4 linked regions of the Homo sapiens genome follow. The protein of the gene in region 3 interacts with the protein of the main gene of each other region in a pairwise test. Each region holds a gene or a part of one and is shown on either strand. Other genes may lie near its edges. The genes, in order: KIF1B, OIP5, SKIL and VIM.

Region 1 (7,954 bases), on a different chromosome or scaffold from region 3:
AAAGAGAATTGTTTGAACTGGGGAGGCAGAGGTTGCAGTGAGCTGAGATGGTGCCATTGCACACCAGCATGGGTGACAAGAGTCAAACTCCATCTCAAAAAAATAATTATAGGTTGGGCACGGTGGCTCAAGCCTGTAATCCTAGCACTTTGGGAGGCTGAGGCGGGTGGATCACAAGGTCAGGAGCTTGAGACCAGCCTGGCCAACACAGTGAAACCCCTCTCTACTAAAAATAAAATCAGCCAGGCGTGATGGATGCCTGTAATCCCAGCTACTTGGGAGGCTGAGGCAGGGAGAATCGCTTGAACCCGGGAGGTGGAAAGTTGCAGTGAGCCGAGATCATGCCACTGTACTCCAGCCTGGACGACAGAGTGAGACTCCATCTCAAAATAAATAAATAAATAAATAAAATAATAATAATAATAATAATAATAATAATACAAAAATTAGCCACGCATGGTGGCGCACGCCTGTAATCCCAGCTACTCAGGAGTCTGAGGCAGGAGAATCGCTTGAACCCAGGAGGCAGAGGTTGCAGTGACCCGAGATCACATCACTGCACTCCAGCATGGGTGACAGAGCAAGACTCTGTCTCAAAAAGAAAAAAAAAAAAAAAAAGAAGCCAACACAACACTACAGAATTATTGGAAGGCATACAAGGAGGCTTCAGGAGAAAAACAACAAATCTTCTAGCTAAAATAACCACTTACATCTTTGGGAGAAAAGTACTTTCAAAGAAACAGCACCATATTAGCTTTCTTGGTTATATAAAAACCACGATTTTGAATATCAGAAAGGAATACTTAAGCGATGATATCGTGACTTCTGTCTTAGAAAGGTATTATCTTTGCAAATCAAGAAAAGAAATCTTTGTGCAATTACCTTTCAAGGGGTGCAAGAATAAATGCACATCGAGAACCTTCTGATGCACTGGCTGTACCTTTATTATTTTTACCTCGTTCACTAACAGCTCCGTGACGCAAGGTTACCACACACAGTTAGATAGTGTCTGCATTGCACATCTAAGGCTATACAGCAAAAGAATCAGAATTAGTACAAATACAAGAACTATATTTACAGTCTGTATACTCAAGCTCCAAACATCAGATAATATTTACAAAATAAAACATGAAAATGAAAATCCAAAATTAATGTACATTGTTGCTAATGTGCTCAACTCCTTCACGGGGGAGAGATCAGTTTGCAAAGTCTTGGTTCAAAAAGGCCACTTATGCATTATGGGTTTTGTTGTCATGTGTGAGGATGGTGACAAGAGACTTGAAATCTCAACAGACAGGTACTTTAGAGCCACAAAGTCTAAGACGATGCCTTAAATACAAGAAGGCTGAGGGACTCCTCAAGTGAGCTGATGCCAGAATAGGCAGAATGAAAAAAAATGAACTCGAAGACATGAAGAACAACACACAACAGCCACGGTTTGGCAAGAGACCAACCTCAGCTCAGACTTTCCATCTGAGCACAGCCGTTTGGCTATGAGCTTTTTACTGAATTTTATAGCAACTCTGATTTCTTCCTTTAAATGATTGGAGGCTTTTTAAAGATCTTATGGGGCTCAAATACTAACTTCATAAATGGCCTTTTGAATAACAGCAGCAAATAATCTCTCAGCTGATATTTCAATTTACTAAGGAAGCACAAATTAAAACATTCCTGCTACACAGTCATGGTCTGGCCACACACTGGGGTGAATCACTGGCCCTGGTGAACAACTGTAGTGCACACAAGTTAGAGTCCTATGTAAACACATCCAGCAAACCTTCTGGGAGCAGCAGCATCATGAATCTTTTCTTTTTTTTTGAGACGGAGTCCTGCTTTGTCACCCAGGCTGGAGTGCAATGGTGCAGTCTCAACTCACTGCAGCCTCCACCTCCCAGGTTCAAGCTATTCTCCTGCCTCAGCCTCCCAAGTAGCTGGGACTACAGGCACACGCCACCACGCCTGGCTACTTTTTGTATTTTTAGTAGAGACGGGGTTTCACCATGTTGGCCAGGCTGGTCTCAAACTTCTGACCTCAGGTGATCCACCTGCCTTGGCCTCCCAATGTGCTGGGATTACAGGCGTGAGCCACCACACCCGGTTGAATCTTTCAAGAGGCAGGTTAACAATCACATTTTTAAAAGGGAACCGAAAGGAAAACTGAAAGACCTAAGTCAAACAAGCCCTGATACTGTCCATTGGAACCCGAGCGGGACACAGCACGAGGGAAATGCAGAAAGAGTACCGATGAGTGTGCACACTGGAGAATCCTTTCTCTCCAATCCACTGTGCAAGTAAGTATAGCTGGATAAATATACATAGACCTGACAAAATTAAATATCCCTGTAAATTAGACAATAAGCAGCAGGCAACAAAGTCTTTGCTTTGGAATATGTGCCAGGAAAAGTCATCTTGTTTTTAGATCTCAAGAGACAGTTCACAATGACTTAGTTCCTTCATCTGAAATGAGCTGAAAAATCCATAAAAAATAGGAGAGTTGTCTGAAGTCTATGTGACTGAAGGGAAAAAATATATAATAGTGGTTTCTTAGTTGGGAAACTCACTCCATTGCCCCTTGCCGTCAGCACGTTTAACAACGAGCTGGGGCTCAGGTGCCCGGCCACTGCCACAAGCACCCCTTGCCTGTGCTCCTGACTAGCGCATGGGCTGGCTGGCCCTGCACAGTCCTGGCCTGAGCGCTGACTGACTCCCAGGAGGGCACACAGACACAGAGAGGGTCTGAGCACTGATTTGGGGCTGGTGGTGAGGCCATATTTTGCTTTGATGGGAGAAAGGAGGATGAGAGACAGAGGAGGAGGTGATTAGTATTAACTAGCACTTATTTCTCTGAATTTGCCTAAGAATTCTCTTTCCTGCCTTTTAAAGTTTTTGCTTATTTAAAGGCGTGCTTTAAGAAAATACATAAAGGTGGTTTCCTTAAGGGCTATGTTTCTTAACTTTCCCGCCACAACAGCAACAACTAGAGCCTCATAAACAGTTCCTGCCACAAATCTCTCACAGCCTCACAGTGGGGATGGTTCTGTCGGGCAAGGGAGCACCCACCCTGGACGTGCTGGGGACCAGCAAAGGCTGTCTGCACCTGCCAGCCGCAGCAGGGGCGCCCCAGAGGGTGAAGAGCACGCAGGACACGACCACTCTGCTCCCTCTGGCTCCCTAAGAGGCCTTCTTATTCAGGCACGCTATGAACAGACAGTCCAGTTTGGCCTGTTCTAATGTCTGACGCTTCCAAAGCAAAGACTTTCCAAACCAGTTTTGTATGAGTTAGAAGAAAAACAAAAGTCATTTCAGTGTATCACATAATTTCACTCTCTCTCAGGCTTCCCACCGTCCTGTGTCACAGACATGGATCCTCTGTCACACTCTGTAACAGCAGCATCAATGACTTAATTTTAAAAGTGACCTTCAAATTCCATCTTCATTTCCCTGAAATTAGATTTGATTCCAGTCCAGGCAGCCATCTCTAAGCACCGACAGATCCTGCTGGTTTGAATAGAACCGGAAGGGCATATTGTGTCCATCAGACAATGAAACTTCTAACTACATTAGAAAATCTCACATACCACTTAGAAAACAAATAACATCACAGTTAGTGACCTATGTTTTAACAGGAAGAAGAAAGTTAAAAAAAAAATCCGCCATAGAGTTTCCGCGGGTCACTTTTCAGGTGCAGACGCAGCCTGTGATTCTATCCTTTCCTTTCTCTCTCCGTGATTCACTTTTCCTCCTCTTCACAATGCAGTGATAAGGAGCGAAGCTGGGAGACCTGTTCTTCAGAGATGAGCCCAACCAGGAAGTGAGAAACAAGGTTGTGGATGATGACACAAGTCTCCCTAGCAACAACTCTGCAGAGGCGCGCAAGCCCCTGGCCTTTGCTGCGTGAAGCGGGAAGTCATCCAGCTGCCTAACGCCTGAGAGTCAGCAACCTCAAGGCCGAGGACTCACCAAGTGGGAGTGAGCAGATACTTTCCTGAATGCCTGAGCAATGGTGAAACAGAGAGGTCTGAGCAAGGGAAGTAAAGGATGGTGTAAAACAATCCCAAGACAACTGGCAAAGCAACTGAAGTCACTGGAGGCTTTCTTTTTCCCCTCTCATCCTGGAAAACTTACTGGCAGCTGAAAGAGACAGACTTATCTTCTCTGATGATCTCGGAAGCCAGATGACCTGGTCTGTCAGAAGGAAAGAAGACTGTCCACAGTGAGCTTCCTCCTTTCTCCCTGGGCAGTGTTTCCACACCAGATGGAGAGGAGCAGGGAACACGCAACAAAGCCTGGGGCCCGGGCTCCCTGGACGTTCATCCGTGCCCCTAGGCATATTGTGTTTTGTTTGGAGTAGTGGTCACGGTTAGTTTTAATCCTGGGATCCAGAAAGCAAAGCCTGCCACATTTGCTTATTTATGAGTATAGAGAGCATCACTGAAAGCATCTTCAACCTGACAAGCATCAATGAAAACAACTGCTGGATTCAGAGGGAGACTTCCAGGTTTATGCCTGAAAGCTATATTTCTTTGATCAAAGGGAGCTGTAACAATCACAAGGTCACTACCCAGCATTATTATTTTTTTTTTTTTCTGAGGCAGAGTCTTGCTCTGTCACCCAGGCTGGAGTGCAATAGCGCGATCTTGGCTCACTGCAACCTCTGCCTCCTGGGTTCAAGCAGTTCTCCTGCCTCAGGCTCCCAAGCAGCTGGAATTACAGGCATGTGCCACCATACCCGACTAATTTTGTATTTTTAGTAGAGACGGGGTTTCATCATATTGGCCAGGCTGGTCTTGAACTCCTGATCTCGTGATCTGCCCGCCTCGGCCTCCCCAAGTGCTTGGATTACAGGCGTGAGCCACTGTGCCCGGCCTGCCCGGCATTATCTTAATCATAACAATGACCATCAAGTTTATCACCAGAAAGTGAAACACTCCCGCCTTGTGGAACATTTGTGTATGACATGGCACTAATTCCAACTGTACCACCACCATCACTAATGCCAAAAGCAGAACTGAGACACTCCTAGAAAAGAGCTTCCCTCCCAACAGAGAAAAAACAGTGGGCAGGAATCCTGCTGTGAGGAGCTACAAGCATCCCACCGCCTGCTGCCATCACGGCCCACGGCCAAACCCTGGGGTCCCCTGAAGTCCACCAGAAGCATCCTTGGCATTTCCCTTCACACAAAGTCAAGAGCAGCCACTGTCCCAGGCCCACTGAAAAAGCCTCTCGTCTCCTCTCTACCAGTAAATAAAAATTCCATAATTATGCCGTAAAAAGCCCCAACTTTGACTCAGAATATAACTGTTGCAGTTCTATGCTCACTACCACCTTTTCCCTGAATGGAAATGCAGGGATTAGCCATGGCAAAAAGAGACAGAGGGGAAAAAAAGACTCTTTTTTTCCTCTCAGGTTCTAAAAAGGCCAGATGTCTCCTCCCTTAGTCTCTAAGCCACCCAAGAAAAATTAAAGTGATATCACAAACAGAGAAAAGAAAAAAAAAGTATGTTGTCTTGAAAAACAAAGGTGCCTGGTGACAGCAGCACAGACATCAGAGGTGGTCATGATGGGGACCTATCATACAAAAGGAAGCCAAAGTACACCCACAATAATTTGGAGATTCACCAGATCCCCTCAGAGTTTTTGTGTTTTTGTCTGTGTATGTGTGTGTGTGTGTGTGTGTGTGTGTGTGTGTTTAAAAACATTTTTTCCTTTTGTTAGGCCACATGCTACTAACGAGATTCTCAGCACAAGAAAAAAGAAAAGAGTACAGAGCAATGGAGATGGGGAACGGGAGAGCTAGAAAAGTGCTGGACAAGGAGGGAGAAGTAGTTAAGCCACAGGATTACATACAAGAGTCACCGTCAAGAATCACAAAGAGAAATGAGAGGTAACGCTTTCTTTATCTCTCGAAGGCGAGTGAGGGCACTCGGCAGAGTCACTTAGTATTTCGACTGGCTCGGGCATCTGCGGGAAAGCTTTGACCTATGGGGGACAAACGGGGAGGTAGGATTAGAAGTCTGGGTACAAGTCTTGTCCCCTCACAGTCCTCTCCCTCTGAGGCTCCCTCCTGGAGCATCTTCCTATTTGGCACCGCAGGCCTAGTCCTCTAAGCCGTCTACTCCGGGACCCTGTGACACAAGCCCTCAGAACGTGAGGCTGAATCACAGGGCTGGAGGTTGGGAGACCATTAAGGTTCTCACTGTCCTCCCTTTACTCTCTCCCCTGAGCCCCATCTTTAGAACTCTTGAGAACAAAAAGACAAAGAAGGAAAATAATTGGTGCACATGTGTGACCAGAGTATCCCTGGTGGTTCAGAACATGACAATGCCTTACAAGATGCAGAGGCCTCATTACCACCCCACAACCAATTTACACTCCTGTCCTTCCTCTCTTTTAAATTTATTTTGAAAAATACTTCCTTTCAAGCCAGATGTGGTGGCTCACGCTTGTAATCCCAGCACTTTGGGAGGCCGAGGAGGGTGGATCACCTGAGGTCAGGAGTTCAAGACCAGCCTGGCCAACATGGTGAAACCCCATCTCTACTAAAAATACAAAAAAAAAAATTAGCTGGGTGTGGTGGCGGGCACCTGTAATCCTAGCTACTCAGGAGACTGAGGCAGGAGAATGGCTTGAACCTGGGAGGTGGAGGTTGCGGTGAGCCGATATCATGCCACTGCACTCCAGCCTGGGCCACACAAGAGCAAAAACTCCATCTCAAAAAAAAAAAAAAAAAAAAAAAACAAGAAAAGAAAAAAGAAAAGAAAAATTCTTCCTTTCCTATTTATCCTGATATTCCTGAAGCCAAAAGCCAAAGAGAGAAAGAAAACACAGAACAACTTCTAGGCTGGGTGCAGTGGCTCAGGCCTGTAATCCCAGCACTTTGGGAGGCTGAGGTGGGTGGATTACTTGAGGTCAGGAGTTTGAGACCAGCCTGGCCATTGTGGTAAAACCCCGTCTCTACAAAAAATACGAAAATTAGCCAGGCAATGGTGGCACGTGCCTGTAGTCTCAGCTACTGGGGAGGCTGAGTCAGGAGAATCGCTTGAACCAGGGGGCGGAGGTTGCAGTGAGCCAAGACCAAGCCACTGCACTTCAGGGAGAAAAAGTGAGACTCCGTCTCAAAAACAACAACAACAACAACAAAACTTCTTACCGTATTGTGCCAGCTAGAAGTGGGTTGAAGGCATACAACCAGTCGTTCATGTCTTTGTCATTGAGGGCCTGCAAAAGGACCCCACGGTGCTTTGTGCAGACAGCAAAGGTGTTTGGTGTCTGAAAGAAAAATGCAGGTAGACAAGAAAGTTACTACAGAGACAGCAATGGGGACTGCCTTGCCATATTCCCAAGGCATATAGCACTTCACAAAGGAAGTTCAAAACCAGAGAGAATAGGGAAATTTCACACCACGTAACAGAGAGTGCAGAAATCAAAAGAGAAGGGCACACGTGGCAATAAGAAACCAAGGCAGGGCAGGACGGACCTTCACCATGGCCTGCTGGTCCTCACTGTACTCCACCTGTGCTGTGGACAGGTTAATGATTCCACGCTCCACAGGGTCTTTGTCACTGTTATAGATGAAGACATAAGGCCGACGGACGACAACAAAATGTTTAGCCCAGTTACTGTAAAGAGGCTCCTTGAAATGAAGGTATCCTTTCTTAGAGACCACTGAGCTAAAAACGACAATATGACAAAAGTTAGTTTCTCACAAAAAGAAAATAATCGTGCTGAGGACCATCAAAATACGCCACACTTAGGCCAAGTCCTTAGATTCGATGAAACAGGCAAATGACCTATTTGGCCTAGAATCTTATCTGCCAAAGTAATACGGCAAAAGCGAAACCGTGCCATGGCAACATGCTGCGCCAGGGTGCAGATGCATTATGAGACCCAACTGGAGAAACCCAGGCTGGCCCTCTCACCCCAGACTCAACTTGCATCAGACTACAGTACAGAT
Region 2 (7,773 bases), on a different chromosome or scaffold from region 3:
CATCTTTTTTAGAAATCAGTACAAAAGTAAATGTTCTAGAGAAGCAATAATTGCATTTTTGTTAGGGCAGTAAGCTTTTAGTAACATATTTTTAACATAAATTTGAAAAGCATTATGGGATTTTGGTTAATTTCTTAATCTTTAAAATGAGTTGGATAAAAGGTCAGGACATTCTTTTTGATTAAGTAGAAACTTTGGCCTTTTCCTCTTGGATTCGGGATGGCTGCTGCAATTACAGTCATTACATCTATTGATGATAGCATCCTAAACATGAAGGAAAAGGATATGGAGAGTATGGGAACACAAGAAAATTCCCCCTTTTCATCAGCATAAATTTTTTTTTTTTTTTTGAGACAGAGTCTTGCTCTGTCACCCAAGTTGGAACACAGTGGTGTGATCTCAGCTCATTGCAACCTCCGCCTCCCAGGTTCAAGTGATTCTCCTGCCTTGCCTCCCAAGCAGATGGGACCACAGGTGCGCTCCACCACAGCCTGCTAATTTTTGTATTTTTATTAGAAATGGGGTTTTACCATGTTTGCCAGGCTGGTCTCAAACTCCTGACCTCAGGTGATCCCCCCGCCTCGGCCTCCCAAAGTGCTGGGATTACACGCATAAGCCACTGCGCCCCGCCAGCATAAATTTTCTTAATCTTTTTTTTATTCTTTTTTTTTTTTTTTTTGAGACAGGGTCTCACTGTCACACAGGCTGGAGCGATCATGGTTCACTGCAGCCTCAACCTTTTGGGTTCAGGTGATCCTCCCAACTCAGCCTCCCAAGTAGCTGGGACTACAGGCATGCCACCACATCTGGCTAATTTTTGTATTTTTTGTAGAGATGGGGTTTCGCTGGCCAGGCATGTTGGCTCACAGCTGTAATCCCAGCACTTTGGGAGGCTGAGGCAGGCGGATCACTTGAGGTCAGGAATTCAAGACCAGCCTGTCCAATATGGTGAAACCCTGTCTCTGCTAAAAATACAAAAATTAGCTGGGCATGATGGTGGGCACCTGTAATCCCAACTGCTTGGGAGGCTGAGGCAGAAGAATTGCTTGAACCTGGAAGGCGGAGGTTGCAGTGAGCCGAGATCTCGCCATTGCACTTCAGCCTGGGTGACAGAGTAAGACTCTGTCTCAAAAAAAAAAAAAAGAGATGGAGTTTCGCTATGTTGCCCAGGCTGGTCTCAAATTTCTGATGTCAAGCCATCTGCCTGCCTCAGCCTCCCAAAGTGCTGGGATTATAGGTGTGAGCCAGCACACCCATCCCATTTTCTTACCCTTGTTGGCCAGAACTATGTCACATGATCACCTCATCTGAGAAAGCAAATATGTAACAGTAGGCTCATGGCAAAAATCTGGATTCTGTTGGCAATAAAGAAGTGAGGAAGGCTGGGCTCGGCTCACGCCTATAATCCCAGCACTTTGGGAGGCCCAGGCAGGGGGATCACCTGAGGTCAGGAGTTCGAGACCAGCCTCGCCAACATGGTGAAACCCCATCTCTACTAAAAATACAAAAATTAGCTGGGCGTGGTGGCGCAAGCCTGTAATCCCAGCTACTCGGGAGGCTGCGGCAGGAGAATCGCTTGAACCCAGGAGGCAGAGGTTGCAGTGAGCTGAGATTGTACCACTGCACTCTAGTCTGGGCAACAGAGCGAGACTCCATCTCAAAAAAAAAAAGTGAGGAACAGCTACTGGGAATAGGTGACCAACACTATGTCTCATACTGGGATTACTTTCTTTCAAACTGTGCTACAGGATCCTACTGATGAAGTGTAAAGCTTATAATCATCGTAATTATTCATATGAGCCTGGTTTTTGTCTTTAATTTACCCTGAGATAATTTTGTCTCTGGTGGGATGCGGCAGAGATCCTCTCCAATTTGTTTATTTTTGAATTTGTTTTTCCAAGAAAATGCAGTCATCCTTCAGTATCTGTGGTTCCAGGACCTCACCAGATACCAAAATCCATGGACACTCAAGTTTCTGATATTAAGTGGTGTAATATTTGCATATTACTTTTGGATATCCTCCTTTTTAAAGTATAAAAGTATATATTTTATACTTTAAAATAATCTCCAGATTACTTATGACAGCTAACGTAATGTAAATGCTATGTACATTACAAATTTACATAGGAAATTTACAAAGTTGTTGTAATGTTAAGGGAATGATGACAAGAAAAAGAGTGTACCTGTTCAGTACAGACACAATCCAGTTTTTTTTTCCTGAATATTTTTAGTCTGTGGTTGTTTGAATCCATGGATGCTATACCCATGGATATGGTGGGCCAACTGTAACATCATGAGTCTTGAAATGAAAATCATTAAGAAGCCAGGCTTTTTTTGACACATACTTTCTTTAGAAGGTAAGTTTGGTTCTTTTATAATCTTAACCATGGTATGACACTAATATTTTTCTTTTTTCCTATCTAGCTATCTCTTAAAAACAAAAGCCATAGTAAATGCATCAGAGATGGATATTCAAAATGTTCCTCTATCAGAAAAGATTGCAGAGGTAAAATTTCATGATGGTTGTATGCTTTTTTAAAATACAGACAACTCTTGATAACTTCTACCAATGAACTTGGGGATGATGAAATGGCATGATGCTCAATAATCCTTTTTACTTGATTTGACCTTCCCTATTGAATTTGTAATGAAAAACAAAATACTAAAACCACACTGTAAGGTATAGTTCAGGAAGAAAGGAAAAGCTGCTCAACTGCTGCACTCCTGCATTCTCCTTTGTGCTGGGAATGGATATCATCATCTTGCCATAGAGGTGTCTTCTTTGCAAATACCTTGTAATTGCTCAACTGTCTCAGACATAAGAGTGATGAAACAGTTATTAAGAATTCCTGGCCGGGCGTGGTGGCTCACGCCTGTAATCCCAGCACTTTGGTAGGCCAAGGCGAGCAGAACATGAGGTCAGGAGATGGAGACCATCCTGGCTAACACAGTGAAACCCCATCTCTATTACAAATACAAAAAATTAGCCGGGCGTGGTGGCACGTGCCTGTAGTCCCAGCTACTCGGGAGGCAGAGGCAGGAGAATTGCTTGAACTGGGAGGTGGAGGTTGCAGTGAGCTGAGATTGCGCCACTGCATTCCAGCCTGGGCAACAGAGCAAGACTCTGTCTCAAAAAAAAAAAAAAAAAAAATTTAGCCGGTCATGGTGGTGGGCGCCTGTAATCCCAGCTACTTAGGAGACTGAGGCAGGAGAATCGCTTGAACCCAGGTGGTGGAGGTTGCAGTGAGCCGAGACTGCGCCACTGCACTCCAGCCTGGGCAACAGAGCGAGACTGCGTCTCAAAAAAAAATAATTCTTGCCTGGGCGTGGTGGCTCACGCCTGTAATCCCAGCACTTTGGGAGGCTGAGGCGGATGGATAACCCGAGATCAGTAGTTCGAGACCAGCCTGACCAACATGGAGAAACCCTGTCTCTACTAAAAATACAAAATTAGCCGGGCGTGGTGGCACATGCCTGTAATCCCAGCTACTTGGGAGGTTGAGACAGGAGAAGCACTTGAACCTGCGAGATAGAGGTTGTTGTGAGGCAAGATCATGCCATTGCACTCTAGCCTGAGCAACAAGAGTGAAAATCTGTCTCAAAAAAAAAAAAAAGAAAAAAAGAAGGCTGGGCATGGTGGCTTATGCCTGTAATCCCAGCACTTTGGGAGGCTGAGGCAGGCAGATCACCTCAGGTCGGGAGTTTGAGACCAGCCTGACCAACATGGAGAAATCCCATCTCTACTAAAAATACAAAATTAGCCGGGCGTGTTGGCGCATGCCTATAATCCCAGCTTTTCGGGAGGCTGAGGCAGGAGAATCGCTTGAACCTGGGAGGCAGAGGTTGCAGTGAGCCGAGAGCTTGCCATTGAGAGCGAAACTCTGTGTGGAAAAAAAAAAAAAGAATTCTTATTGGCTGGGTGCGGTGGCTCACACCTGTAATCCCAGCACTTTGAGAAGCCGAGGTGGGTGGATCATGAGGTCAGGAGTTCAGCCTGGCCAAGATGGTGAAACCCCGTCTCTACTAAAACTAGAAAAATTAGCCAGGCGCAGTGGCAGGCGCCTATAATCCCAGCCCCAGCTACTCAGGAGGCTGAAGCAGGAGAATCGCTTGGACCTGGATGGCAGAGGTTGCAGTGAGCCAAGATCACGCCATTGCATTCTAGCCTGGGTGACAGTGAGAATCTATTTCAAAAATAATAATAATAATAATTGGTATGGGAAATGACTTTGGAATGGCAGTATGAGGAGTTCCATGGATAGGATCCAGGAAGAATATTATAAAGGAAACAACCATCTTAAGTCTGTGGAAATTTTCTTCAAGGTATATGGCAAATACAGAAACATTTATTTGTTTATTTATTTTTGAGACAAAGTCTCACTCTGCCTCCCAGGCTGGAATGCAGTGGCACAGTCTTGGGTCACTGCAACCCCCTCCTCCCGGGTTCAAGCGATTCTCCCACATGGAGAATCCTTGTCTCTACTAAAAATACTAAAAAGCCTCCTGAGTACCTGGGACTACAGGCGCGCACTACCGTGCCCAGATAATTTTTGTATTTTTAGTAGAGACGGGGTTTTACCATCTCTGCTAAAAATGATGGCCAGGCTGTTCTCGAACTTCCGAGCTCAGGTGACCCACCCGCCTCGGCCTACCAAACTGCTGGGATTACAGGTGTGAGTGCCAGGTTCAAGTGCTTCTGCTTCAGCCTCCCCAGTAGCTGGGAACCCAGTTGCCCTTGCCCCCAGCTTGCTTGTAGGGTGGAAATCCTATGCTGGGAGGGGCGAATGGAGATTATCAGAAGCCACTGCTCTTGCCCTGCTGAGTAACAACACTAAATTTCATGCTAAATATAGCTGTAAGAACTCTTAAAAATTACCTAATTGCAACAGTTATCTGTTCTAAACCTAATAACCAGAGTTAACTTTGCAGACCATTAGTAGAATGTTAAAGTCAGAGAGGCATTTGTTACTGTTAACAAAGTGTTAAAAGAAAAGCTAAATTCTTGCCACTGGAAAAGGAGGAGAAGCCTGTCTCCACAAAGCACTGTGACCAGACTTTATTCATCTTCACAGTAGCAGTGCTGCTCAGCAATGTTTTGTCTTTTTTCACACGAAACTTTACATCTGAGGATCTTTTTTTTTTTTTTTTTTGAGACGGAGTCTCGCTCTGTCACCCAGGCTGGAATGCAGTGGCACGATCTTGGCTCACTGCAAGCTCTGCCTCCTGGGTTCACTCATTCTCTTGCCTCAGCCTCCTGAGTAGCTGGGACTACAGGCGCCCGCCACCGTGCCCAGCTAATTTTGTTTTTGTATTTTTAGTAGAGATGGGGTTTCACCGTGTTAGCCAGGATGGTCTTGATCTCCTGACCTCGTGATCTGCCCAACTTAGCCTCCCAAAGTGCTGGGGTTAGAGGCGTGAGCCACTGCGCCTGGCCACATCTGAAGATCTTACTGTGCGCTACGTTGTTGTATAAAGTTCTTCCAGAATTAGAAGAAATTTATTCCTCAAATGCATTTAGACATTGCCAGCTCCCAATTACTAGATATAAACTAGCTTAAATTTGAAATGGTGTTTGTGACCAGCAAATTGACAGTTAAGCTTAAAATGCCCAGATATCCATCTTGGTGTGGTGGCTCATGTCTGTAATTCCAGCACTTTGGGAGGATCACTGACTGCCAGGAGTTCAACACCAGCCTGGGCAACAAAGCAAGACCCCCATCTCTACAAAGAAAATTTAAAACACATGACTGTAGTCCTAGCTAATCAGGAGGCTGAAGTGGGAGGATCACTTGAGAGCAGGAGCTTGAGGCTGCAGTGAACTATGAATGTGCCACTGTACTCCAGCTCAGGCAACAGAGTGAGACCCTGTCTCTTAAAATAAGTAAAAATAAAAAAAGATGCCCTGATATCTATATATTTCTCTTCCTAGCTGAAAGAGAAGATAGTGCTAACGCACAATCGCTTAAAATCACTAATGAAGATTCTGAGTGAAGTGACTCCTGACCAGTCCAAGCCAGAAAACTGATCCTGTACCAAAGCTTGAGTGTCAGGTTCAGGCTTTATTGCTGTCTTCAACAACAGGTGCTGCTTAGTCATTTCTTGAAAAAGATTGGCTTCAAGAATGGAGGGGAAATGCAGTTTCTATTTACCTTTAGGCTGATTTTCCAAATTATTTGTGAAGCTGTTTTTAGAAGATGAGAGACTAAGGATTCTTCTCTTTTATAGCTATTTGCCTTAAGAACTTACTTTAGATTCTTATTGAATTCATAATACTTATCTCTGAAAATGTCTTTGACTGTAAATTTAGGAATTAAGATGCAGAGTCCCATGTGTCCTCTGATCTAAAGTTGCATGGTTGGTCTGAAAATAGAGTTGGGCTTAATGTTGACTTCTATTACTCCTGCATGGAGCAGTTGTTATGAATACTAATACATCACTTTTTAACTTCTGTAAAATACAGATCATAATATTCTATAGGTAATGTTTAATAAATTGCCTGAATAATATACAATTTGTCTTTTTCAGTTGTAAACTGAGGTTAACAGAGAAATAATGAAAGCAATGATAAAACGAAACAGTTACCAAAGTACTATTTTCTATAATTTTGTTTTATGTAGCACTTTGAGTAACTTATCAAAATATTAATTTAATATATATTTGTAAAGTGTTAGACTAGGTGCTGGGGATAAAAGGTAAGCAAAAATAGACACACTATCCTTAGAATTTATAATCTAGTCAGAGAGGGACATTCAAATAATCACATAAAGATACATAAAATTACAGGCCTGGCGCAGTGGCTCACATCTATAATTCCAGATTTTCGGAGGCCGAGGCAGTGGATCACTTGAGGTCAGGAGTTCAAGACCAGCCTCGCCAACGTGGTGAAACCTCGTCTCTACTAAAAATACAAAAATTAGCCAGGCATGGTGGTGCGCACCTGTAATCCCAGCTACTCAGGAACCTGAGGCAGAAGAATTGCTTGAACCCAGCAGGTAGAGGCTGCAGTCAGCCGAGATCGTGCCACTGCACTCCAGCCTGGGCGACAGAGTGAAACTCCATCTAAAAAAAAAAAAAGATATGTAAAATTATGACGCTAGTAAGGGTTTTGAAGTAAAGGAACATAGGGATACACGCACATAAAGCAGGTAACTGACCTGGTCTGGGTTTCTGGGAAAGAAAGCCTCTGTGTAGAAGTGAAGTTTCAGCGGTGGTCTGAAAGACGAATAGGAATTAATAAGGTGATGGAGGGATGACCTTTATGAGGTCCTTAAAAGAAGGCCTGCCTAATCAAATTTACTTTTTCAGAATGTCACTGTGGTTGTCCTGTGGAAAACAGGTGGGAAGGACAGCAAGCAGACCACTAAGGAGAGCCTTTGGCACTAGCACAATCAAGAAATTACATATCCAAGTGGTGGAGGATAGAAAAGCTAACTTGGCTGGGATGTAGCTAGCAGAATATATATATATAAATTTTTTTTTTTTCTTCCCGAGATGGAGTCTTGCTCTGTCGCCCAGGCTGGCGTGCAGTGGCCTGATCTCTGCAACTGCCATCTCCCGAGTGTTGAAGCGATTCTCCTGTCTCAGCCTCCTGAGTAGCTGGGATTACAGGTGCATGCCGCCACGCCCGGCTAATTTTTTGTATTTTAGTAGAGACGGGGTTTCACCGTGTTGCCCAGGGTGGTCTCGAACTCCTGAGCTCAGGCAAATCCACCCACCTTGGCCTCCCAAACTGCTAGGATAACAGGCGTGAGCCACTGCGACTGGCCTGCTTAT
Region 3 (7,954 bases):
GACATGTTTACTAGAACTACTTTAAGTATGCTGTGCTTTCTTTTCAAGTGAGGTATCTATATTGAGGAAAAAAATCTTATAAATTCCTTTTACATTAAACTAATTTAATACACTATTTTGTTTTCTGGGCTGAATTTTTAAATTTTTTTCTTACATTTGATCACTTTCTAATTCAAAAATTGTAGCACTACATAGGACATTTAATTCTATTACTAAATAGGCTCCAAATTACATTATACAGTTTAGAAACCATTTCAATGAATGGATTTACAAAAAAAAAAAAAAAACTGTCCTTTTAAATGAAATGCAATATAAAATACTAATACACTTTTCTTCCAAAAGTGGAAATGCTTAAGTACCCTATACTAGAAAAAAAAAATTAGGCTGTTTATTCAATTCCACAATGTATAATACAGCAGTTTTATGTCCCTTATTGCTGACAGCTTCGATAAAAACTATTAACAAGTAGTTCCAAGCACAGAAACAGATGTACAGTATGAGCACGATTTTTCTTTATATTAATTTTTAATGTCCTATCATGTGGATTAAATGCATAAAGGGCAAATAAAAATGAGGAATCTTCCCTAAGTAATCAAAACATATGCCTTATTGAGAAGAAAATTTTAGAAGCTGATTAAAATCCTTCAGCACTAGCTTTGCAATTAATTCTGGAGAAATACCTTGACACATCTTATAGTATTTGAGTTTCCTTATAACTTTACCTTCCTTCAAACAGAAGCTACCTATGTGCAAATAAACTGGTTGTTCTGTCAGGACTTCTAAAAGATATGGATAACCGGCAAATATATACTTTATTTCACCTACTTTAATAGCTGCTTTACAATTCGCTATGTACAAATGATTTTATATCTTAACTGGTAATATATTAAATATGTTATAAAATTAGTTCAAGAAGCATAAAACACCCTAACTCTCATGAACACAGAAATTCAAGCAAAAGAATATGCTTAAACAAAAACTAAAGCACACAGCAAACGTAAATTGTTGGTCAAATCTTTTCATAGTGTTATAAGTTACATTTGTGAAATTTAGGGTAGTTGAAGAGCTTCCTCAATAACAGCAAGAGGTTTTACATTTATTACCTTTATAGAGTAGGTACACTTTTCTCATAAAGTTTAGCCTACAGAAACTATCGCCACCCAAATTAAACATCACCCAAGCTAATATTCTTTCTTCCTTCTAAAGATGAGCTAGCAAAACTTTTTATAGGTTGTCCCTTTAATGCAGCTTTTTAGAATAAACATTTTTACATTTTTTCTTAAAAGAATTATTTTTTGAAGTCTGAGGAAAAATCCGCTTGCCTAGTGAATTTGGCACACAAAGAGTAACAACAAATCAAACTTTAAGCTAGCAACCAACACACAAAATAAGCATGCAAAGAATAGAATAAGTTTTATATGGATAAGGTATTTTAGCCAACTCCACTTATAAGGTATTACAAAATCTCTATATTGTTTTGAAGCTATGTGTTGCAGTTTAAAGTTACTTTTAACAATAATACGTATATTTACAATTGACTTAAAAAACTATTTTCAAGGAAGTTAGAAACCTATGGCACACCAACGCATCTTCTGGAAAATGAAGACGATACAATGTCATGTGGCAAGTTTTCAATATATGAAGGACTAGAAAAAATATTTCTTTACTCAATTCTGAATTACAAGTTCATAATAATTTAATGGTGTTTAAGCACTGCTTAAAATTTTCCAATAACATATTTCAAGGATTAAGCAATTTATTTTAGAAGTTTTGGGTTAAACAAATTATCATTTTCTAGGTAACATAAAGCAGAAAGGTTCCAAGTGAATTAGAAATATAAATGAAATTATAGGTGTTTGAGTTTGTCTTCCAAAAAGCTGAGCTGTGACACAAATAATTCAAAATTAAAATAAAACTATATCATAAATATCTGATTTTTCCTTCTCCAGATCTAAATAGATTGTATTGGGAGAATATGTCATTTTAAATATTTGTTTCTAAAAATTAGCCGGGAGTGGTGGTGGGTGCCTGTAGTCCCAGCTACTCGGGAGGCTGAGGCAGGAGAATGGCTTGAACCCAGGAGGCAGAGCTTGCAGTGAGCCGAGATTGCACCACTGAACTCCAGCCTGGGAGACAGCGAGACTCTGTCTCAAAAAAAAAAAAAAAAAAAAAAAAAAAAAAATTTGTTTCTACATGTCATTTTAATATTTGTTCCTCCTTGAGAAGATTCCAAGACTCAACGAATTAAATTAGTCTTAATATAGCAAAATTTAAATGGAAAATAGAAAACACACATTTAGGTTATACTCAATTTAGTAAATAAATTACATTTGGGGAAGTACAAAATTCTTTTTGGATATGTACTATTAAGCAAAATATGAAAATAACTGGTTAAATGACAACCTAGTGATTCTTTCTACACCATTAGATTATCTACCTTCTATGCTGGAAATAGAATATAACCTTAACCCTAGCTAATTTATTTTAAAATAAATATAGCTCTCTGAAGTAATTTCATACATAGTATCTTATAAGAGAACATGAAAAACATTTATTATCCCATAAAATCCATGGGGTAATAATGTCAATTAATGATAGTTTCAGGAAACTCCCTTTAAAAACAGATCTAAGAATTTTACCTAATATATTTTGAGCCAAGAATTAACAAATATGAAATTTGCCATTAGAGAATGACAGACTTTTCTGTGCAAAAAAAAAGTGCAGAAGATGTTGTCCCTCCTGAAACTATGGAATTCCTTTATCTTCTAAAACTTATCTAAAAATCTTTTAGTAGCAGGTAACTAAACTGTCCTATATGCACCTATCATGTACTATCAGTTGACTGTAAATTCCTGATTTTGATATTAAGTAGTAAATGAAAATGGTCCATTCGTGCAAATTTTGGTAAGACAACATTTAAACATACAGAAGTCCAAAATAACCTTCAAGGTGTTTAACATTTTACAACTTAAAGGAAAACAAGTCCATTATATAAATTTTAGTAAGACTCATAACTACATGTAAAAACTGTACAGGAGGATTATGGATTGTATAGAAACTGATACACAACAGTGGTATCAGTTTTTCTCAAGAACGTTAATATTTTCACACCACTATTAACAACACAAACAAAAGTTCAGAAATTATCACATTTTATTTTTGAAAAGTTGCTGCTTAAAAAAAAATCTAACTATAACCACATTTAAACTGAAAAACAAATTACAACTGCTGCTTCTGTTTAGCAGCAGCACATAACAACACATTCTTCTTCCCCACTGTGCTCATGGGGTATGCTATAACCTCAGTAAAATTCCTCCTAGGGTACACATTAAAAAGAAGAGAACTGGTGGAAATTCATTCCACAATCTGAACAAAGTAAAAGTAAATTTGGTGTATGTTAATGAGTACACCATATCAACTTAGAAAAATTGTGTTAATGAGAAAAGGGGAGATTCAACTCCTTGAGTAGCTCTATATACTTAAAATATAAAGCCACCATTGTATCTAAAATTGAGTCTGAAATATGGATAACAAAATTGACCACAGCTATTTTCCAACACATATTGCAGCTTTTAAAAAGTACACAATTGTTAAGTTTGCATTAGAAATATAAGCAGATTACCTACTAGTTGAAACCATATAGTATTGTTACTAAGCTGATTTTTTTAAAAAAGTACAAAGAAACATACATTTTCATTCATTTGGAAAATGTAAAAATTTAAGTACTAATATATAATCTCTTCACTTTCTCTGATCTACAAATGGATAGAATGCCTAGTTATCGTCATGCAGATAAATTCTTCAGAATTCAATTACCAAAGCAAGCAACAAACAAAAAAAACCTTGTCAGTAATACACAGATGAATCTCTTTAACAGTTTCTATTCTTTAGCAGTCTTTGATGATTTCAGAATTTGCAGCTTTAGCTCTTTTATCATCATCTCTAACTTCTGTCTTGCTTCCCGTTCCTGTCTGAGTTCATCTTGGAGTTCTTGCCTATCGGCCTCAGCATGGTCCAATCTCTGCCTCAGTTCTGCCAACTATGTGATTTAAAAGGCGCTATCAATTTTAATTGTTTTGTTTTTCCATTTAATCCTCATATCATAGAAAATATCTATTTTCAAATTACTTTTTACAAAACGAACTATTTCATGTATACTAAATCCATTAAGCATCTAATACTATTAATCTGACATCTGACAGGACACTAAATTTAAGAAAAAGCAAAGGAACAAGAGGAAGGAACACATCCAGCATGTTCATGTTCATTATGCCCTATACTTTACTATACCGCTCATCACAGCCTGCTCATGTTAGTTATTTGTTCATGTTCCTTAAATTGTGAGATTCTATTAACAAAAGAGAATTGCTTATTTTTGCTCCAGTGCTTTTGAACATAACAGGCAACAGTTCCTGTTTGTTAATTTGTAGATTTGAAAGCTCATATACTACATTAAAATAATATAACATATAATATTCAGAGGGCTAGAGATTAGCAATTTAGGTAACTAAACTGCAGTAACCCGATAAAAATTTAAACTAATAAAAGCAACAAACATCAAAATAATCATCTTGGACAATACAGCATAAAGCTATGTTTAACAGAATTATCTATTTTGAAATCTAGCTTAGTAAACTGAGCTTGACAAAAAGTAATTCCTTTATTAGAGAAGTAACGGTGGCCGGGTGCAGTGGCTCATGCTTGTAATCCCAGCATTTTGGGAGGCTGAGGTGGGCAGATCATGAGGTCAGGAGTTCAAGACCAGACTGACCAACATGGTGAAACCCCGTCTCTACTAAAAAATACAAAATTTAGCTGGGCATAGTGTCGCACGCCTGTAATCCCAGCTACAATCAGGAGGCTGAGGCAGGAAAATTGCTTGAACCCGGGAGGCAGAGGTTGTGGGGAGCTGAGATTGTGCCACTGCACTCCAGCCTGGGCGACAGAGCAGTCTCTGTCTCAAAAAAAAAAAAGAGAGAAGTAACAGTTTCCATTTCCATGCTGAAAGGGCACCATTATACAAACAGTAATTCTTACCTGTCCTGCATATTCAGCCTCTTTGTCTTTTTCTAAATTTGAGTCACAGGTACATTTTTGCTTCATTATCTGCTCCAATTTTTTCTCTAAGTCTTTCTGTTCAACATAAAATTCTTCCATTCTTTGAGCATGTTCATTCTGCAAAGATTCAAGCTCTTTCTGTAAATTCTGCTGTTCTTCAGTGAGTTCCTTCATAGATTTTGAACTACTCAACATTTTTACTTCCTGTAATGTAAAGAATCACAATACAAGTTTTACTTTATTTTCACCATGTTAAAATTTTCAGTTCTGGAAAACATAGCACAGAAAATACCTAAAATTCAGCTATCATTATCAGTTCTATATAGAGGTAATTATTTTAAAAAACTATTTTCTCAAAAAATTTTAAAATATATTAAAATTGCTTTTCAGTGTAAAACAATAATCTTAAGTACATTTGTAGCATCTCGTTTTGACTTTTCTTACTAAGAATATACAGGGGGGCTGGGCGCAGTGGCTCACACCTGTAATCCCAGCACTTTGGGAGGCCAAGGCTGGTGGATCACAAGGTCAAAAGTTCGAGCCTGGCCAGCATGGAGAAACCCCATCTCTACTAAGAATACAAAATTTAGCCAGGCATGGTGGCACGTGCCTGTAATGCTAGCTACTCGGAAGGCTAAGGCAGAAGAATTGCTTGAACCTGTGAGGTGGAGGTTTCAGTGAGCTGAGACTGCGCCACTGCACTCCAGCCTGGGCGACAGAGCAATATACAAAAGTATCTTTTCATAATGGACTATCATTTAGATAACAATTTTACCATCTGAAGTTGTTGCTTCTTTTGCAAAATCAAGTTTAGTTTTTCCTGTTGTTTTAAATAAGTTCTCATTACTTCTTCCATGATTTTTCCCTTATCATCCTCACAAATGACATCTTTCACAAGAAGCGGAGATGAAGCGGCAGCAACAAGGCCAATTCCCACTTTGTTTATGTCTCTGACTAAGTTGCAAGTGGCAGACTCAGATTTCCTTTTACTTGTAGAATTATTTGAGATTGATGCATCTTGGAGAGAAAAAAATCAAGTAACAAAGTATGAATATCACTCCATTAAAAAAATCACTAGAACAATCCATAAATGTAATTTTTAAAACATTTCATTTATAAATTAGACCAAAACAAATAAAATAGGAATAAATTTAACAAAAGCAGTGCAAGTACAATGAAAACTACAAAACATCACTAAAAGAAATTTAAGACCTAAATACATGGAAAGACATCCCAAATTCATGGATTGGAAGACTTAATATTGTTAAGACAGTAATAGTCTCCAAATTGATCTACTTATCAGTGCAATCCCTATCAAAATCCCCACTGGATTTTTTGCAGAAATTGAAAAGCAGTTTCTAAAATCCATATGGAAATGCAACAAACCCAAAATAGGCAAAATAATCTTGAAAAAGAATAACGAAGTTGAAAGACTCACAATTCCCAATTTCAAAGCTTACTACAAAGCTACAGAAATCAAGACTGTGTGACATGATTTAAAGATAGACATACAGATCAGTAGAACAGAATTCAGAGTCCAGAAATTTAAAAAACTCATACTTTATAAGGCAATTGTTGTTGACAAAGGTGCCAAAGCAATTCAGTCAGGAAAGAATAATCTTTTCTGGCCAGGCGCGGTGGCTCACGCCTGTAATCCCAGCACTTTGGGAGGCCGAGAAGGGCGGATCACGACGTCAGGAGATTGAGACCATCCTGGCTAACATGGTGAAACCCTGTCTCTACTAAAAAATACAAAAAATTTGCCAGGCTTGGTGGCGGGCGCCTGTAGTCCCAGCTACTCGGGAGGCTGAGGCAGAAGAATGGCGTGAACCTGGGAGGCGGAGCTTGCAGTGAGCCGAGATAGCGCCACTGCACTCCAGCCTGGGCAACAGAGCAAGACTCCGTCTCAAAAAAAAAAAAAAAGGAAAGAATAATCTTTTCAACATACGGACAACTATATCCACATGCAAAAGAATAAGGTTGGACCTTATGCTGTATACAAAAATTAACTCTAAACTGATCAAAGACCTAAATGTAAGAGCTACAACCCTTAAACATAAATTTCTTGGCTGGATGTGGTGGCTCACGCCTATAATCCCAGCACTTTGGGAGGCCGAGGCAGGTGGATTACCTGAGGTCAGGAGTTCACCACCAGCCTGACCAACATGGTAAAACTCTGTCTCTACTAAAAATACAAAAAAAATTAGCCAGGCATGGTGGCGCGCACCTGTAATCCCAGCTACTCAGGAGGCTGAGACAGAAAAATTGGTTGAACCCGGGAGGTGGAGGTTGCAGTGAGCTGAGATGGCACCACTGTACTCCAGCCTGGGCAACAGAGTGAGACTCTGTCTCAAAAATAAATAAATAAATAAATAAATACATAAATAAATATTTCTTGGAATTGGGATTAGGCAATAGTTTCTTAGATATGATACCTAAAACAAGAAAAAAATAGATAAATTGGATGTAATAAACATTTAAAACTTTTGTGCTTCAAAGAACACTAACACGGCCAAGCGCGGTGGCTCACACCAGTAATCCCAACACTTTGGGAGGCTGAGGCAGGTGGATTGCTTAAGCTCACGAGTTTGAGACCAGCCTCAACATGGCAAAACCCCAACTCCACCAAAAATACAAAAATTAGCCGAGCATGGTGGTACATCCCTGTAGTCCCAGCTACTTGGGAGGCTGAGGTGAAAGGATGGATTAAGCCCAGGAGGTAGAGGTTGCAGTGAGCCAAGCTGGGGTGATACAGCCAGACTTTGTCTCAGGAAAAAAAAAAGAACACTAACAAGAAAGTAAAAAGAAAACAGTATGGTAAATCAAATATCTGATAAGGATCCAGTATCCAGAATATATAAAGAACTCTTACAACTCAATAGTAAAACAACCTAGC
Region 4 (8,106 bases), on a different chromosome or scaffold from region 3:
ACCACACACATTGCTGTGGTTAAATTAATTTGGTAAATGTATTTCAGTTTCAAAATGTTATACTACACTATTCATCTGAGAGTGCTTTGCAGTTAATCCCAGTAAATATTCCAGGGAATACAACTATAAACTATAATGGGGATCTTCTGGCTTTTGGATTCCAATTTTAAGTTAAAAATTCTGTAAGTCCATCTAATTTTGGTGAAAAAAAAAAAAAACACGCACAAAAACCCTTTAGTTAAAATTCAGTTTTTCAGCCTTGGGTTTATTACTGTTATTATTTTTTATGGCAAGAGTGCTAAAGAACACAAGAACCCAATCAAGAAAGGACTTTTAAAATGTGAGGTATGCTTGTAGCTTTAAAAACTTTTTACATTACCTACTTCTCAAGTCTGGGCCAGATATTAGATAACGGATGTTAGCAAATACTTGTGTCCAATTAGAACCGTGCTTACATCATTACATATTCAGTAAGAATGTAGCCTGTTGCAAAGCTTCCCTGGGAATACAAAGACTCCTATTATTTCTGTCCAGAGCCACCACATTTGCCAGAATGTCTGTATCTACATTCCATAGTGAAGCCCATAGAAACCATTAATACCCCTTAGCCAAGGGGACAGATGGCTCCTTTTCACCCTTATTAGATCACAAAATAGTTGTGCATAGTGATACTTCCATCGAACTTTAATGACACAATAGAATTTGCAAAGAAGAAAAGAAACTTGCTGGCTCCATTCCAGTTGGAAACTAAGTTTTCTTATCTTCCAACACGTTTTCCATTTTAAACTGCAGGGCATAATTGCGCTTTTTGTGGCCTTGTAAAAATTAAGCAACTTGACTTTGGCAAACCACAATCTAAAATTGTAACCGTTCGAAACCAGAAGGTCAATGTGTTGCAAAACTGTGCAACATTTGGGAAACAAAGTAAAAAGTTAAAAGATTTTTCTTTATGTCCCAAGGAACTGCTTAGAAATCATTCAAGGATCGCTTGAACCCGGGAGGCGGAGGATGCAGTGAGCCAAGATCTCGCCACTGCACTCCAGCCTGGGCGACAGAGTAAGACTCCGTCTCAAAAAAAAAAAAAAAATCGCTCAAGGGGTTTTATTAATATTTTTCTAATCATGAGAAGCTCCAACCTGTGGTCTTCCCGCCACTAGAGGGCTTTACGCGCAGCCCTGAAGTTTTGCACTTTTTAGACGTGAGTTAAGCAACTTTTAGAATTGCTCGTGGGTTGTGTTGGGTGGGGTCAGGCGGCTGCGAGTGGGAAGAGAGTCTACAAACCTGTCTGAAAGATTGCAGGGTGTTTTCGGCTTCCTCTCTCTGAAGCATCTCCTCCTGCAATCTGAAACAGTTGCGCATTAACCAAAGGGGAACGAGGAAACCGCCAGGGGCGGGGCGGCCACACCCAAACACCACGTATTCGCTCTGCGCCTCCAGAGCAGCTGCGCCACCTCCGCGCAACTAGCGCCTGCAGCTTTCAGACCTGCTGCCCTCGGCAGGTTTCAGCGGGACTTCGGGCACCGCGCAGAGGGGCAATCACGGTGGCCGCACAGACCTACAGGACAGCCCCGCCATCCCCGCCCCCGAGGGACCATCCCTTTGTCTCGCTCCCTCCACCGCCTTCCCCTCCTTCCTTCTCCCGCCCGGTGATTGGCAGCCTGCCAGAAGGGGCAGGAAACTTTCTGAAAGTTTGGAGGACTGGCTCTCATTGTGCCCAAGGGCCTTCAACTGCACACAAAGTGGTAGTTTTAAGAAATCTGTAACTTGAAACGGAGCGTCCTTGGGCAATGTGTGGGGACAGAGGAGGAAATGCGAACTGCAAGGTCTGGGTTCTGGGCGGGGCTGCGCCACCACAGCCACAGCCCCGCTCTCCGCTGTCTCCCTGGCAGGCCTCCCCCCGGCCACATCCCCAAGGGCGTGGCAGCTCTCGCGGGGGCCGGGGGGGCGTTCCCCTCTCCCTCCAGCCCCCTCCCGAGGCCCAGCTACTTGCATGGGCGCAGCCTTACTTCTCCCGGAGGCGCATGATGTCCTCGGCCAGGTTGTCGCGCTCCACCTCGACGCGGGCTTTGTCGTTGGTTAGCTGGTCCACCTGCCGGCGCAGCTCCCGCATCTCCTCCTCGTAGAGGTCCCCCAGGCGCGACTTGCCTTGGCCCTTGAGCTGCTCGAGCTCGGCCAGCAGGATCTTATTCTGCTGCTCCAGGAAGCGCACCTTGTCGATGTAGTTGGCGAAGCGGTCATTCAGCTCCTGCAGCTCCACCTTCTCGTTGGTGCGGGTGTTCTTGAACTCGGTGTTGATGGCGTCGGCCAGCGAGAAGTCCACCGAGTCCTGCAGGAGCCGCACCCCGGGCACGCTGCTCCGCAGGCGCACGGCAGAGGAGCGCGTGGCATACACGCCGCCCGGGGACGAGGCGTAGAGGCTGCGGCTGGTGCTGGGGCGCAGCGCGCTGCCCAGGCTGTAGGTGCGGGTGGACGTAGTCACGTAGCTCCGGCTGGAGCTCGGCCGGCTCGCGGTGCCCGGGCCGCCGAACATCCTGCGGTAGGAGGACGAGGACACGGACCTGGTGGACATGGCTGCGGAGGGTGGCGATGGCCTGGGCGGCGGCGGTGGCGCGGACTGGCTCCCGGAGAAGAGGCGAACGAGGGCGCGGTGGGTGTGGGTGGTGGGAGCGCGGCTGCGTCTCTGGCGCGGGGACCTCGGAGCGAGAGTGGCAGAGGACTGGACCCCGCCGAGGGCGCTGTTTTTATAACCCCGTTAGGAAAGAGGGTCCCCTCCCACTGCCATCCCAGCCGCGGAGCGCGCCAGCCAATAGGGACCTAGCGAGAAGCGGGGAGGGTGGGCGGGTGGGGTGGGGGCGCCCTCGAGCCTTCCTGCTCCGGGGCCTGGGACTGGGCATGGTCCCGTTACTTCAGCGCTGGGCTGGGACTTTTGGGGGCTTTCCGGATGATAGTCTGAGCTGGGCTCACCCTGGGGTGCTGAAAAAGGCGGGGTCGCGCGGTGAGGGGGGGGTCCGCCTGGGACTGAACCAGAGGGGTCCGGTGGCACCACGCCAAAGGGGCGTGGGAGGAGGTGCGCGGCGGTCTCGGGGCTGCGGTCAGGCGGGGAGACCCGCGGGCAAAGGAGCGGGAAGAGGAAAGAGTAAGGAATCCCTCAGATCTGAAGTCGCGGAGAAAGAAACAAAGAGCGCCTGAGATTGGAACGCGGGGTGGGGGCGCGCACAGCGCAGGAACGCAGGGCTCAGGCCTCGCCGCAGCCTCGCGCGCCGCCCGCTTGGAAAGGGGGGCTGCTCCGGCCCGCGCCTCTGTCCATCGACTTGCCTTGGCGGAGAGATGTTGGGGGGAGGGGAGGTTCTGTCGAGGGACCTAACGGGCTCAGTCCAGCTTCGGACGGCGGGAGTTGCGAGACGGCGGTGGCAGAGGAAAGCCCGAGGGAGAGGGGTGGGGTCGCTTAGTCACCGGCGGTGACTCACCGCGCCCTGCTGTCCCGCCGATTGAGGGCTCCTAGCGGTTTAGGGGAAACCGTTAGACCAGATTGATTCAAGTCTCAGCGGGCTCCGCGCGCGCTGCTAGTTCTCAGTGCTACCAACTTACAGCTGGGCCATCGCCTTGCTGTGTGCGGTCGGGCCCTGTGGGGGACAAGAGCGCCCCTAAGTTTTTAATAACTCGCTAAAGCCTGTCTTTGCTCGAATGTGCGGACTTTTTGTTAGCAAGAAACTTCTGCAGCCTTTGGAGAGGCGCCATACGTGGGCCTCCCAGATCACGATTGCACCGGGAAGGTTTTTCTTGCAGAGTCCCCGCCCCCGTCCCTCTGGTCTCCTCTCGCTCTTCCCCCTCCCCCCATGAAACCACACCCAACTTTTTAAACAAGATCTGAAAATTCTGGGTGAAAGAGGAAACTCGACGTCCGTAGTTTCAAAATAGAACTCAGTGATCAGTGGTTTTTACCCTGGTGGAAGTCATTAAAGGTATAATATGAGCCAGTTAAAGAATTAATTAGGTGTTGCTTAAAAACCCCAATTTGATTAATGAGTTCAAATGAAAGGCAATTATGTAACACAAATGACAGAATCTTTGGCGGCAATAGATTTATGTGTTAATTTTAGGACAGCAATGCACAGTACAGGGTTCACGGTGATTTGTCTGGGAAATGCCATAGGTCCTGTTTTCCAAAAGAATTCGTGCAATTGACCTTGGGGTGAGGGGGATAAAACTGTCTACGCAGCAAAAAACTTCGTGTCCAAGACATGGAGGGAGTGTTCAGATTCGGTCACCTTAACCTTTCTAGGGAAATCACTCAATTCAAGGGCTGTTGTTTCAATATTAGTAACGAGCAGAGCTGAGTACTTACCCGCCAAGGGAGATAAAAGGAGACTATGTAAATCAGTCTTCTCGTGATTTAGTAGCAATTGAAAAGGCACAGGTTTTTTTGAGTATTTAGATTTATGGTGTACTGAAAGGATTAACTGCAGAACCACTGTAAAATTGATTCTGCAGTGGATAGGAGAAAAAAAAGTATTTCTCTCTTTTTTTTTGGTGGCGGCAGGGGGTACTGCAGGTTACTTGGTATTTAAGAAACATAATTTAGAGGTAAATGAAGAGCGTATTCTGACTTCTTTGGACAAGCCTCTTTTAGGCAATATTTTGTTTACCTTATCCCAGTTCGTTCTTGCAAATGGTGCTTGCCAAGGTGGAATTACAGGACTCTCTACTGCCCAGCTCGCCTGCTGGGGCTTTCTTTTATTCTCTCTTTCACTGGGAGGCTGCAGGTCATTCCCCAAGAGCATTCCTGGGGCTGGGTGCCCTGGAGGACAAGCCTATGCTCTGAGTTACATCTTGCTTTCTGAGAGCCCTTTATTCAAGCCACTGCTCAGCAAATGCCACCATTGTGAGTGTGCCTGGAACCCTTAGAATGAGAAAAGTGATCTCCCTATGGGAGGAAGAGAGTGTGGAACTCACTTCTACGTGCAGTGCCGATCCCAGGGCAATGCGACGCTTGCTGACTGACTCACTATGGAAAAGGAGGACAAGGCATTGGCGAGGTGTGGCACTGTGCCCTGCTGGTGCCCATAGCCGATTCCTCAGGGCTGCGGTGATGTCTCCTGGAATGGGCACTGGTCCTCTTCATCATCTCAGGGATAGGTAGCTCCTCCTTCCAACCTGTCCCCATTCTGAAGTCTCTGGGCTGTGATAGGCTGCTCTCTTGTCACAGACATATGTTTGTTTGATGCATATAGAATGTATAAAAGTGTAGGTGTTCTGTAGTCCCAGCACTTTGGGAGGCCAAAGCAGGAGGATTGCTTGAGATCAGGAGTTTGAGACCAGCTTAGGCAACATATATATATGAAACCAAAAAAAGCCAGGCGTGATGGTGCACACCTGTGGTCCCAGCTACTTGGGAGACTAAGGCAGGGGGATTGCTTGAGCCTGGGAAATTGAGGCTGCAGTAGGCTGTGCACACCACTGCACTCCACCCTGTGCAACAGAGTGAGAACCTGTCTCAAAATAAAGTATATGTATGTACTACACACACATATACATACGCACATATACAGCGTTCAATGTGTTTTTCCTATTAGAAAATGCCATTGTTTTTGGTGGGCTGCAAGAGAAGTGAAAGTTGCAGAAACACTTTCATTCATTCATGTAGAATTCATGAGACTTAAGAATTCATTTCATTCTGAGATAAGATATACAGTGCCTCAATCAATGGGTGATAGTTTTCAGTCAGGGAGATCAATGAATCTGAACTCACATCCTTGAGTGAGACAACTCAGCCTGCTCTCTATGCTACTGTGTTCTTAGGTATCTTTTGGGTACACAGACATAGCTTTCCCGGGTTTTGTGTTTATTTTTTAATTGCTATGAAAACCTATCTGAGAAGTATTTTCAAGTGCTGGACTGGGAAGCTGCTTTCAACACAGCATGATGCAAGTTGCATATAAATAAAGACGTGGTGGTATAATTCATAGGCCAGGCATAAACACTACCACATCTAAATTACCAACAGTGATTTTGGAATTTGCAAGCTGTCATGATGTCAGTTGAATTGGGTGACTTAAACTGACGGACCAGCCAGCCGTGTGGACAGAAGCTTAGTGGCCTATGGAGGCTTTGGGAAAGCTGGCTAGCCATGCCAAGAGAACAGCATCTAGCAGGACTGTTTGGATGGAATGTTAGAAAGAAGAAGGAGGGTACACTGAGAGCATGAAAACCATAGCAAAACCTAAAATCCATGGAAATACAGGTAATAATAATAAATAGTATAATAGGTAATGTCGATGCCAACTGAATGACAGACACTGTGTATATATTTAATTTAACTTGATGCACTCACACCCTCCTGCAAGATAGACTTGATCATCCATTTCACTAATGAGGAGCCTAAGATGCAGGCTAGCAATTTTCTTGTGGTTGTATGACTAGCAGGGGTGGGAAGAAGGGGACAAGAATTTGAATCGAGGCCTTTCTGACTCTAAATGCACTTCTCTTTTCTGTTTGCCTTGATAACAAAATTTTGCTTACTATCAACCAGTTCAATTCACAAATATTAAGTGCTGGACTTATCATTTAGGGACCTACTGTGTTCCAGGAACTGAAGAGATGGGATGATTAACACAGATCTTGCTGCGAAGGGGCATATTTTTAGAGGAATTTGGCAGACAGCTATAACACCATGTTTACGATGTAAAATGATGTAAAAAACAAAATCAAATGACGTAACAGTGATCATACTATGTAAGAAGGGAGATTTGTTTTCACCTGCATTCTAAAACATTACTTTCATTAGTGAGTTAAAAATTTTCATTTAGATTCCATTTTGCCTCTTAGGAGGAATCACATTCAAGACTGGGTTTAGCTCGTCTCACGCCCTAAAGCCCATGAACCACCATCGCTTCCCCTGCCAGCTTCCCTGTCTATTCAGGGCAATACAGCAAAACAACAAGATTGGAAACTTTCATCATTGCCACTTCCTAACTAACTCTTCCATCTCAGATCCAATGGGTATCATGCCCCGCTCTTCCTGGATCCACTCCTCTGTTACGTTGCTGTCACTCAGATCCAAGCCATTTCATACCTCCTTCCTGCAATACTGCAATTGGCTTCCGTTCCTCCATGCTTTCTTGCTTTCTTTCTTTTCTTTTTTTTTTTTTTTTTGAGACGGGGTCTCGCTCTGTCCCCCGGGGCTGCAGTGCAGTGGCGCGATCTCGGCTCACTGCAAGCTCCGCTTCCCAGGTTCACGCCATTCTCCTGCCTCAGCCTTCCCAGTAGCTGGGACCAAAGGCGCCCGCCACCAAGCCCGGCTAAGTTTTTGTATTTTTTTAGTAGAGACGGGGTTTCACCGTGTTAGCCAGGATGGTCTCAATCTCCTGACCTCGTGATCCACCCGCCTTGGCCTCCCGAAGTGCTGGGATTACAGGTGTGAGCCGCTGCGCCCGGCCCCTCCATGCTTTCTTTTCTGCCACCAATGCATCTATCTTCAAGCCATCACCCCTTTTTCTTTAAAACTTATATATATATATATAGAGAGAGAGAGAGAGAGAGAGAGAGACAAAGGCTTGCTCTGTTGCCTAGGCTGGAGTGCGGTGGCGCAGTCATAGCTCACTGCAGCCTCTTAACTCTTGAGCTCAAGTATTCCTACTGCCTCAGCCTCCCTAGAAGCTGGGAGTGCCATCCATGCCCAGCTAACTTTTTATTTTTTGTAGAGCCAGGGTCTTGCTATGTTGCCCAAGCTGGTCTTGAACTCCTGGGCTCAAGCAATCCTCCAGCACTGGCCTCCCAAAATGTTGGGATTAAATGTGTGAGCCTCCACATTTGGCCAAAAACTTCCTTCTTTAAACTTCTTGGCAGGAATTGCTCATTTCCTCACTGGAATGTAATCTCCCTAAGGGCAGGTAGGAATTTTTCTCTCTTTTGTTGACTATTGTATTTCCAGTGGCTAGAGAAAAGCCAGGCACATCTGTCGAATATATACATTAATACATGAGTAGTTCATAGAAGGAAGAAATATAGGTGTGGGGCTAATATTTACTGGTGCTTATTATGTTTAAGCATTGTGCTAGTCACTTTAGACATGACTGCATTTAATCTTCACAAGGTATCGTGATACAC

The links.
Region 1: the proteins of SKIL (region 3) and KIF1B interact in binary tests that used the Homo sapiens proteins (3 or more experiments, as listed by UniProt).
Region 2: the proteins of SKIL (region 3) and OIP5 interact in binary tests that used the Homo sapiens proteins (3 or more experiments, as listed by UniProt).
Region 4: the proteins of SKIL (region 3) and VIM interact in binary tests that used the Homo sapiens proteins (3 or more experiments, as listed by UniProt).

Annotation. Positions count from the first base shown.
Region 1 is NC_000001.11:10,374,570-10,382,523, reverse strand, and holds the end of KIF1B (kinesin-like protein KIF1B), read right to left. Parts: intron 7,671-7,954; coding exon 7,478-7,670; intron 7,270-7,477; coding exon 7,151-7,269; intron 5,980-7,150; coding exon 5,937-5,979; 3' UTR 921-5,936; downstream 1-920. UniProt on the Homo sapiens protein: Has a plus-end-directed microtubule motor activity and functions as a motor for transport of vesicles and organelles along microtubules.
Region 2 is NC_000015.10:41,308,006-41,315,778, reverse strand, and holds the end of OIP5 (protein Mis18-beta), read left to right. Parts: intron 1-2,424; coding exon 2,425-2,506; exon of another isoform or gene 2,507-3,881; intron 3,882-5,929; coding exon 5,930-6,025; 3' UTR 6,026-6,506; downstream 6,507-7,773. UniProt on the Homo sapiens protein: Required for recruitment of CENPA to centromeres and normal chromosome segregation during mitosis.
Region 3 is NC_000003.12:170,388,344-170,396,297, reverse strand, and holds part of SKIL (ski-like protein), read right to left. Parts: intron 6,076-7,954; coding exon 5,834-6,075; intron 5,263-5,833; coding exon 5,038-5,262; intron 4,040-5,037; coding exon 3,881-4,039; 3' UTR 1-3,880. UniProt on the Homo sapiens protein: May have regulatory role in cell division or differentiation in response to extracellular signals.
Region 4 is NC_000010.11:17,223,886-17,231,991, reverse strand, and holds the start of VIM (vimentin), read right to left. Parts: upstream 3,752-8,106; 5' UTR 3,468-3,751; intron 2,717-3,467; 5' UTR 2,570-2,716; coding exon 2,007-2,569; intron 1,343-2,006; coding exon 1,282-1,342; intron 1-1,281. UniProt on the Homo sapiens protein: Vimentins are class-III intermediate filaments found in various non-epithelial cells, especially mesenchymal cells. Vimentin is attached to the nucleus, endoplasmic reticulum, and mitochondria, either laterally or terminally.